3 linked regions of the Homo sapiens genome follow. The protein of the gene in region 2 purifies or fractionates together with the protein of the main gene of each other region. This does not show direct contact. Each region holds a gene or a part of one and is shown on either strand. Other genes may lie near its edges.

Evidence for each region.
Region 1: the proteins of DGCR8 (region 2) and NOP2 purify together in Homo sapiens (affinity purification with mass spectrometry; 2 studies listed by BioGRID and IntAct, with this or other methods). This does not show direct contact.
Region 3: the proteins of DGCR8 (region 2) and RRP8 purify together in Homo sapiens (co-immunoprecipitation; 3 studies listed by BioGRID and IntAct, with this or other methods). This does not show direct contact.

The regions. Positions count from the first base shown.
Region 1 is NC_000012.12:6,561,687-6,565,337, forward strand, and holds part of NOP2 (28S rRNA (cytosine(4447)-C(5))-methyltransferase), read right to left. Parts: intron 2,563-3,651; coding exon of another isoform or gene 2,464-2,562; intron 2,261-2,463; coding exon 2,205-2,260; intron 2,086-2,204; coding exon 1,928-2,085; intron 1,829-1,927; coding exon 1,629-1,828; intron 1,485-1,628; coding exon 1,395-1,484; intron 286-1,394; coding exon 198-285; intron 119-197; coding exon 1-118. UniProt on the Homo sapiens protein: S-adenosyl-L-methionine-dependent methyltransferase that specifically methylates the C(5) position of cytosine 4447 in 28S rRNA. Required for efficient rRNA processing and 60S ribosomal subunit biogenesis.
Region 2 is NC_000022.11:20,086,623-20,090,273, reverse strand, and holds part of DGCR8 (microprocessor complex subunit DGCR8), read right to left. Parts: coding exon 3,591-3,651; intron 3,113-3,590; coding exon 2,953-3,112; intron 606-2,952; coding exon 463-605; exon of another isoform or gene 431-462; intron 299-430; coding exon 16-298; intron 1-15.
Region 3 is NC_000011.10:6,594,492-6,597,665, forward strand, and holds the end of RRP8 (ribosomal RNA-processing protein 8), read right to left. Parts: 3' UTR 581-3,174; downstream 1-580.

The sequences.
Region 1 (3,651 bases), on a different chromosome or scaffold from region 2:
GGGGCACAACACATGTCCAGGATCCGCTCATGTTCCTGGGGTGCCAAGGCCATGACGGGCAACATGCTGGAGGCTCCCTGCAGCATGTAGTGCCCAGCCAGGTACTCGGGGGTAGCACCTGTGGAGAAGGACCACCCTGTGACATGCGGTAGGGACAGGGACAGAGGTAGAAGGGCTCTTGGGTGGGGGAGACTTACCAATGGGCACAGAAGAATCATACACCACTAGTCCAGTCTTTGACCACTTGCCCAGGGGATCCAGGTTAACCCCACGATTGATTAGAGCCTGAAAAGGGATGAAGATTTTTTTTTTTTTTTTTTGAGATGGAGTCTCACTCTGTTGCCCAGGCTAGAGTGAGGTGGCGCAATCTCGGCTCACAGCAACCTCCACCTCCCAGATTCAAGCGATTCTCTCGTGCCTCAGCCTCCTGAGTAGCTGGGACAACGGGCATGTACCACCATGCCTGGCTAATTTTTGTATTTTTCATAGGATGGGGTTTCACCATGTTGGCCAGGCTGGTCTCTAACTCCTGACCTCAGGTGATCTGCCCGCCTCGGCCTCCCAAAGTGCTGGGATTACAGGCGTTGAGTCACCGCGCCCGGTAGGGATGAAGATTTTAATAACCTCATAGGCTACTCTACCCAGAAGACAGATGAAGACATTAAACACATGCTTCATAAAAACATGGCCCATACCCCACAACTCCTATAGTGCTTACTCCAAACACAGTCATCATGGAGTCATTGAGCAGTTTCTCTCTCCCACTCCATCCTATGGTGCCCTTTTTTCTTAACCTCAGGCTCCTAACTCAAGATCTGAACTTCATCCCAATGGAGCAGGATGCCACCTCCTGTTACTTTATTTCCTAGAAGTGGCATCTGATTTTCTAAGAGGCTGAGCCCCTCCACTATACTAAAAATTTAATGACATTGGTTATACCACATTACATTATTAGGTTTTCTTCACACCAGGAAATATACAACACATATAACCCAACAACTGACTTTACAACAGGGGTCTTTAACCTGGGGCCCCTGAACCCTTGGAAATGAGTTTAAAATATTGACTGTGCATATGTGTCTTTTTTGTGCAGTCAGGAATCATATTTCCCCAGCTCCTCAATGATCTCCCTCCAATTTCCTTGGGGGCAGCACGCTCATCCTGAAGTCTCATCATCCTAGTCACAGGGAGCAGAGTATGAACTTCCCATTCCACAGAGGTCCTAGGCCCCCAGATCCTATCCTGCCAGAGACATCAGGCCTCTGGGTTTGCCCCCCCAGGATCATGCTTAGGTCCTAAGGCCCCACCCAGTCAGGGTAGCACAGAGGAATCTCTGGAGTTGGCAGAAGTCACTTCCCTTCTGAGATGAGTGAGCCTCAAAGGCCACCCCTCACCTGTGCAAGGTCTCGGCGTCGGGTTTTCAAGGTATTGGTCCGGAGGGTGACGGGCCGAGGCACCTCATTAGCTTCTAAGAACTCCACCAGCTGCGGGGCAAGACAGCAGGGAATAAGTGAGGCTGGCTAAGGAGCTCAGTCAGAAGAGGGGAGCAAGGGGGCCGAACATCTTCCTTACACAGCGTAAGGAGGCGAGAAAAGAAAAGCAAAAGAGGCATTCTGGCAATCCAGTACCTCAGACAGAGGGAAGAGGTCCATGAGCTTGCCAAGCAGGAAGTCTCCATAGGAGTAGTAAATGGCCAGATCCTTCTTGAGCCGGTTCAGGTATTCAGAACGAGACCGCCCTTCCTCCCGCTGAGCCCCAAAATCACGCAGAATTCCCACAATATCCTGGATCCGCTTGTGAACTCGTTGCAGGTCTGGAGCCTGGGCATGTGGGCCTGTTAAGGAACTGTGTCATGATGTCCTAAGGCCTGGAAATCCCTCTCCCAACCACCTTCCTCCTAACTCTTCACTCTGCCCTGCAAGGATATCCTGCTCCATCTCCCCAGCAGGGGGCAGCACAAATGGTTCCTCATCCACATTGATCTGCAGGCCCCCATCTGCCTCTTCCACCTTTGGGGGGCCTGACTCAGGGGTCACTTCTTTCTCTTCCTCCTCGTCCTCGGTCTCCTCTTCACTCCACTGGATCCTAGAAACAGGTCCAGGAACAGAGTGATTCACAGACCAAAACAGATACCTCCTCCTTCCTCACAGCTTCCCCACCCCAGTGGCTTCCTATGCTCCATCCCAATAGCTTCCAAAACTCACCCAGCAGCAGCTTCCCGGGCCTTCTGCTTCCGAGCAGCTCTTTCAATGGGCAGCAACTGAAGAGAGACAAGGGCTATTAATACAGGCCTGCCCTTCCATCAGCCCTTGTAGCAGTTCTATCTCTATATCTTATTTTTTCGCTAAATAAAAATCCAACACTTGCTCTCAGAAGGAAATAGAGGAGCAAAGAAATGAAAATAAGATGGGCGCAGCATTGCTCACTGTTGAAACTAAGTAATGAGGGCATGGTGGCACACACCTGTAAATCCCAGCTACTTGGGAAGCTGAGGCAGGAGAATTGCTTGAACCCGGGAGGTGGAGGTTGCAGTGAGCCAAGACCGAGCCACTGCACTCCAGCCTGGGCAACAGAGAAAGACTTCATCTCAAAAAAAAAAAAAAAAAACCTAAGTAATAAATTAAAGGGTTCATTACATTTTTCTTTCTACTATTATGTTTTTCACTTTTCCATTAAGAAAAAAAAAAAACTTGAAAAATACCTGGATGTATAAAGAAGGACAAAAATGGCCCTTGACTACCATTCTGCCATATTTTTTTTGAGAGAAGTCTCGCTCTTGTCCCCCAGGCTGGAGTGCAATGGCGCGTCTTGGCTCACTGCAACCTCCGCCTCCCAGGTTCAAATGATTCTCCTGCCTCAGCCTCCCAAGTAGCTGGGATTATAGGCGCGCACCACCATGCCCAGCTAATTTTTTGTATTTTTAGCAGAGATGGGGTTTCACCATGATGGCCAAGCTGGTTTTGAACTCCTGACCTCAGGTGATCCGCCCACCTCGGCCTCCCAAAGTGCTGGGATTACAGGTGTGAGCCACCGTGCCTGGCCCATTTTGTCGTTTTTTTTTTTTTTTTACTTACTCTGTATTTTTCACATAATCCATTTTCAAGTTTGTTTCTTGCTTTTTAGACTTCAGTTACATCACAGGCATTTTCATAGACATAATGACCAGTGTAACTGCATCATATGCATGAACCATAACTTACTTAAGCATATTGTGTATTTTGGAAGTTTCCTGAGTTTTTGGCATTATGATCCACATGGTGCCTGCAAACCTAATAATGACCCTGTAGATACAAGGGGATGTAGGAAGGGGGTGCACATGGGGACCTTCTCTTTTTATTCTATACGATTCTAATAATACATCCACACACTAATTGTATAATAACTTCCTGCACCTCAGTAAAGAACTATTTGCTGACATTTTGGATCATCTTCCTTAATAGGGAATTACTATGTCAAAAGGAAGCAGTTATTTTTTTTTTTTTTTTTTGAGACAGTCTCACTCTGTCACCCAAGCTGGAGTGCAGTGGTAAGATCACAGCTCACTGCAGCCTCAACCTCCCAAGCTCCAGTCATCTTCCCGCTTCAGCATCCTGAGAAGCTGGGACTACAGGCGTACGCCACCACACCCAGCTAATTTTTAAACCATTTTTT
Region 2 (3,651 bases):
CCTTCAAAAACTCACCAACGGATTCATCTTTGCACACCTCGACTTTGGCCTTCACCTGCCCCAGGGCCCCAGGGGCTGCCTCAGCCCCTAGTGGGTCTTTCTCGTCCGGGGGCCCCGGGTCAGCACCCATAGAGTCAGGCTCATCCAGGGGAAACTCCAGCTCTGCAGATCGGCTCAGGGGCTTGACGGGGGACACATCCCCACTAGGGGTGAGGTCACTGCTTTGCTCCCGTTCCTCGTTGTCCTTCATTTTCTTATAATGCAGACAAGGGATGCTACTCAGAGGAGGGTCGTGTTTCTGTGGATAGTGAAATTGCAATATGGATTACAAGGACAACCCGAGAGTCTGAAACTCTGATGCCTTTCACCGGCCTCTGCTTGGCTGCGGTGCCATGTGTGTGGATGTGCACGTTTTGGTCTGAGAACTTACAAGCCTAAAGTCACGACTGATGCCTCCCCTACCCGTATGCTTCCCGTTCCCAAGAAGTATGGCCTGGACCAGGTGACCACCCGAGACTCTCTGTGTAGGTACACCGGGACTCCAGAGTTATGGAATGTCATGATCCACCCGTCGGGCAGCGGCTCTGTAGGTGGGCGGCCACGACCTGCACAGGAAGACAAGAACATCCTATAATCACTGTAAAAACACTTGGAATTGTTGCCACAGCACCTCCTGCACAAGAAATTGTTGGGTACTAGCATGTGTTTAACTGGGTCTTCACAGATAATCGAAATTCCTCTCTGCCTTGCTCACTGCTATGCCTCCAGGCCTAGGACAGATAGCATGTGGCCTGAGGTGGGAATTTACACGTGTCAAACCAGCACATGAAGGAGCACAGAACAGGTCTGTGCAAGATATAAGTCCCAGCCTCAGCTCCTGCCTCCACATCTGGTAAGCACTGTGGACACTGGACTCCTTTGCTGCCTGTCTGGTTGTGGCCAGAGGCGCCTTGGGGCTGGATGAGCTTTGCTAATAAACTGCATGGCTGTCAGCCACTGCTCCCAGTGACCAGGTGACAAGTCTTTATTGTAACTGAGCTGCACTCTCAGCAGCATACAAAACACTGCTTCAAATGATTCCGTTTCTAAGTTGGTTTAATACACTACTCCCAACCCCTTCTTTGCTTTATAGGCAGTTGTGAGGAAGAGGTTTACGACTTATCAACTTGACACCTGCCACCAGGCCTGACTGCTGGGAAGAGCGTAAGGCAAAGATGTAACTAAAACTTAATTTTCTCACAGGTATTGGGAACAAGTTAAAAACTTAGAAAGACCAGCCTAGGCAACACAGCAAGACCCTGACTCTACAAAAAACTTTTTAAAATTATCCAGGCATGGTGGCATACACCTATAGTCCTGGCTACTTGGGAAGCTGAGGTGGGAGGATCACTTGAGCCTGGGAGGCTGAGGCTGTAGTGAGCTACTCCAACCTGGGTAACAGCAAGACCCCGCCTCAAAAAAAAAATTAAAAAACAGAAGAAAGCAAATGAAACCTTAAAAAATATACATAAGGGGAAAAAGGGCCAGTGACTCTCAGGGCTAGGTACCCACCAAGTGGCCCTGACCCTGGACCTGACACCTGTACCCAGGCCACCATCAGGTGATGATTCAGGGAGGGAGTGTTAAAGGTCAGGGGTGCATGCACACTGCGTGGGCTCTCTCCCCACAGAGTCAGGCCAAGATGGAGCTGCCTCCTGCCAGCTTTAGGTTAAGTCAGGAAAAGAAGCAAAGGGAATACGGAGCCAAGCAAGAGACGGGCCACGGGTCCGCTGGGGCTGCTCCTCTGTGACAGTGAGTGGTCACAAAGTTGGCCCAGCCACCTGAGGTGGGGGTCACATGCAGCTGTCCGTCTGTGAACATCCAGGCATCCAGGCCAGAATGGCTGCTGACCAGTGAGCTGTGCAGGACGAATGTGGGTTTACCTTCTGAATGAGCCTGTTGAAAATGCAGCACCAAACCAGCCTCCTAGAGGCCCCGAGGTCAAGACTCCTGCCCCCAGCCCCAGAAGCTGAAGCCCCAGGTTTACCCTGCCTGCAACCGTCTAGACCAAAAGCCCTCCTGCTTAACTGCTACCAACACGACATAGGCAGCAACATGTGGCACCTGGCATAGCTAACTTGTCCCCTCAATGGCCCAAGGAGGATGGCCATGTGCCACCCGCCCCTTGCTTTGCTCCCAGTCGCACCCTGCCACCTTGTGCACCCCAGCCCTCAGCCTGGGGTCTCACCTGTGAGCCTGAGTCCCCGTGCATCTCTTCAGTCCCTCTACCGAGCCCCACATCTCCACCAGGACCCTCATAGGTGCCTCCAAGCCACCAACTCCGACTCCCCCAACACCTGCACCACATCGATGACAGAGCCTCACAGTGCAACTCTGGGCGCCTCTCAAGTGCTCTCCCCACTACCCTCAACTCAAAGTTGAGGAAGTGCCACGTCGACCAGGGCACTTCCACCCTGCCCAGCTGAAGTGCACACACCATGCTGTGGCCCAGAAGCCATGTTGTTAAACAAAAATCAGGTAACACCACTTGCTTCTGGTGGCTTCCTGTGACACTTGGTCCAGGACTAGAACCTGGATCACAACTATCACCTGCCATCTCACTGTGTACCCACCTTGCCCTTGGTCTCCACACCCTCCAGCTGATGGTCATGCTGGCTCCTGGCATATACCAACATCCCCTCCTGACCCCCTCAGAAGTCCCCTCCCATTCCTCTGCACAGTGCCTGCTGCTCTGTGGTTTCCATAGCACACACCAGGATCCGCATCTGGGTCATGCATCAGGACGTCCTCCCATCCTGTGTTTCCCTCCTCAGATATTTCTGTCCTGTCCTCAAACATGCCTCCACCCAGCCCACTACCTGGCACCAGAGCTCTCTCAAAGCATTTCTGCTAAGGAAGCAACCACCCCTCCACTGCCCTGGAACACCCACTGCTTCTGACCCACACACGTACTTTTGAGCACTGTTTTAATCTTGGTCATCATCGGCTGCACACTTGTCTCTCCATCGGACGGATGGTCGCTGTCTCCGCCATATTTTTCCTCTGTTCGCCTCTTTTTGGGGGCACAAAGGCCTTCTTCCAGCAGAGCATCCACATCGTTGTCAAAGTCATCCTGCAAAACACGCTGTTCAGACACCAGAGCCCCTGGCGCTCATGCTCCTGCAACAGGAGAGCTCAACAGCATTCCTGAGAACAGACACAGAAAGGAGGTGCTCTCAGGGGGCCTAGATGTGCCCTTAGGGTGCATGATCATCTGAAAAACAAACAGGATGAAGCTACCAGCTGACACCAACACACCTGGTCCAGGGGCACACACTGCCAAGGAGCGTAACTCAGCAGCACCTGCTGCCCCACGCGCTAGATCAGGGATGCAGGGCCTACCCATGGGCCAAACTTTTCATTAGGAAACTTTAAAAATCTGGACTCCTTACATCTTTCTCTTCTCCACATTAACATTATTCCACCTCAGAGGGGATTTTGGTTTTTGTTTTTTTTTTTTTTAATTTCCCTGCTTTCAAAAGATGCTGCAATTCCCAAATCTCTCTTTGGGTTTTGCTAAGAGCCCTCTAGAGGAGGGGCTGCCAACATACCTCGTAGGGGAAATTCAAGGCCTCTTCATCCACTCTGTCTCTCTGAACGATTGCTTTAGCC
Region 3 (3,174 bases), on a different chromosome or scaffold from region 2:
GAAAAGCAAGCTGCTGGCTGGGCTGCACTTCCAGTTTGGCAGGACAAATATGCATGCATTTCCTGTGGGTTCCATGAAAGGTAACCAGTCTTGAGGGTTTGTTGGGACCATTCCCAGGAGAGCTGCGTACAAGGGTGAAGCACTTTAGCACGAGGAGGCTGTGGGTACATTGTCAGGGTCAGGGGCTGAAGAGCTGAAGGGCAGTGTGGGCTGTGCATCAAAAAGAGGCAACCAAAGTCAGTTAGTGCCCCAGTCCTCATGGAGAGCTCCAGAGAACCCCAAGAGCTCACAAAGGAGTCAACAGTTAAATGCCTGTCTGCACAGAACACACCAATGGTACCTTAATCACGTAAGCTGAGACTTTCTTCGTTTAATATGCCCTCCCCCATTCCAATCCTAGAAGAGACAGGAAGTAAAGAATGAGTGAAATAATGACCATGTTCTCCCAAACCACTGAGGTAGAGGAACAGCAGCTTTAAACTGGATAAGTTGCTGACAGGTTCCTGAGATGTGGGAAAGGGTGGGGATGAAAAGCATCATACATACATATGTATATATAATATTATATATTATACATATATATAATTGTTTTATTTATTTATTGAGACAGGATCTCAGTTATCCAGGCCGGAGTACAGTGGCACAATCATAGCTCACTACAGCCTGAAATTCCTGGGCTCAAGCAATCCTCCCACCTCAGCCTTCCTAGTAGCTGGGATCACAGATAAGAGCCACTGCACTTGGCCCAAAAACATATTTAAAATGTTAATACTTTAGATTGGTTTCAGTCATGTTATAGGGAATAATGGAACGTATTTATACCAGAGTATTAACAATGTAGAAGGACCCTTGAAACGAAGCCAAAAAGATAGGGGCTGTGGCAATTAAGGAGACTTCCAAGAAGTCTAATACTAAGTAGGGCATCCCTGCTTAATCAATAACACTTCATTTCGTGACCATGAGACAAGAAAACTACAGAGACCTCATCCCTAACATCCTTCAGCTCCAGAACCAATGCCAAATCACCTAACTCCAGGTTATATGACAAAAAAAAACATCTGTTTAGGACATTCTTTAGTGGGATTTGTTTTTCCGGTCACAGTCACAATGACGGATTTAAAAAAAAAAGAGTATCTCAACTTCCTATTGGGAGTACATGTTTTCCCCTGATTTTAAACTCATGGGACAAAAAGAAAGTGTTGACTGGCATCTGGCAAGATAATTAAATATCTGAAACACCCTGAAGGAAACAAAGAGGGTACTGTGGTCAAGAGTAAGGTGGACAGGATACCATAGAAGATATATCCAGTGTATATAATGATAACTGCTAAAACACCCTCAAAACTCACTAGCAGAATGTAATCAAGTTTATTTTCTTGTTCAAAGTCCAATATGGATGTTTTTGGTCAAGTAGCTATTATGCCCTAAATAGTAACTCAGGTATTCAGACTTCTTCTATGCTATGACTCCATCACCGTCAAAACATGTGCTTCAAGGTTACCTTGAAGAGGAAGGAGGAAGAGAATAATGGAAATGGCTCAGCCACCCTTTAACTGCCTTGGTCTAGTATTGAAACATCACTTCCACTCATTTTCCACTGTTGAGAACTACTCACATAGGCCTAGATGCATGGAGCTGGGAAATGCAGTTTACCTGTGTCCAGAAAGAGGACATTTGGGTGAGCATCTGGCCAGTTTCTTCCACAGAAGCAAAGGTAATAGTGGTATGAATTCAGGAAGATGAAAATGAGCTCACTGGGGAAAGAGTATTCAAGGAAGATGGAGCATGTGCAAAGACTCTCAGTAGAAACAGTTTGGAAAGCTTGAGGAATAAAAAGCAAGTCTGTGTGGCTGGAGTTTTGTGAAAGGGGAGGAGTGGGTTAAGATGCAGATGGTGATGGTGACGGAGGCCTGGGCAAGATCACACGGGGCCTGAAAAGTTTGTCTTTTGTTCTCGAGGCAGTGAGAATCCATTGAAGGATTTTAAGCAGAGAAGTGACATAAGCTGATTTACATTTTAAAAAGATCACATGGCTGTGTGGAAAATTAATTGCTTTAGGGACACGAGTAGAAGCAATTAGACCACCAGTAAGGCAGTTACTGCAGGAGTTGGGTATCCTAAAACCAGATGGCTGGTCAGAGAATTCACCTGGGAAGGAGGATGACCAGGGGATGAAAGGTTCTAATTACTGGTCTCTGTGAAAAGCTGTAGAGAGTTTTGTGCAGTTACATAAATGGTTGGGTTTGGAGCTGAGCGGTGTCTCTGCCAAGATCATGTTGTTTCTTTTAGAACTGTGTTCCCTTAGGACTGGACTATATTATGGGAACAGAAGCTGGAGCACACCAATAACTGCAGAAGCAGTAACTATTTATTTGGAGAACTCTCAAAGGGATGCTGAACAAGCATGAGGCACGGATAACCAAACCCAATTTTATTCTTGTCTCTTACCACCCTCCAAATTTTATTCACTGGGAGGTACTCTCCCTGCTATGGAGAAAAGCTGCAGCGAGGTTGTGATGTTCTTAATAGATAGTCCTGTGATCAGTTTAAGGAACAAACATAATCTCAATTAATTAGAATGTCTAATCCTGTGTAACAATAATCTGCACCTGTTGCAGTTTTAAATCCCTTTTTCCTCTCCCAGCTCTGCCCCAGCTAAGTCTAGGAGCCTGCACTGGGAAAGGGAGGAGTGATTGGTATGCTCTTCCCTCTGCTCGGCTCCTCTCTACCTAATCACTGCTGATTGCTCTGGGCCCAAGTGATGAGGAGAGGTAAACAGATAAATCATTTTGCCCTGACTGGGTATTTCTATGCACTGTGGGCCTGGAAGATATTTCCTCTCCCCTATTCTCACTCTCAAATGATAAACTGGCTTCCTGCTCCCCTGAAAAAAAATCAAAGCAATCAGAAATGAACTTCTGGGGCCCTATCAGGAACTCTGGAAGAGGGCTTTCATAATGGAGCAACCTCTTACCACTGCCATTTACCTCAAACAGGCCCTCCACATTACTCAGCAATCCTTACCCCACTGCATTCTGAGTTCTCTCTCATCTCAATAGCACTCGACAGCTAACAACCTGCCCATCCTCCCATAAAAAAAAAAAAAAAAAAAACACTGGCTGGGCACAGTGGCTCATGCCTGTAATCCCAGCACTTTGGGAGGCCGAGGCAGGC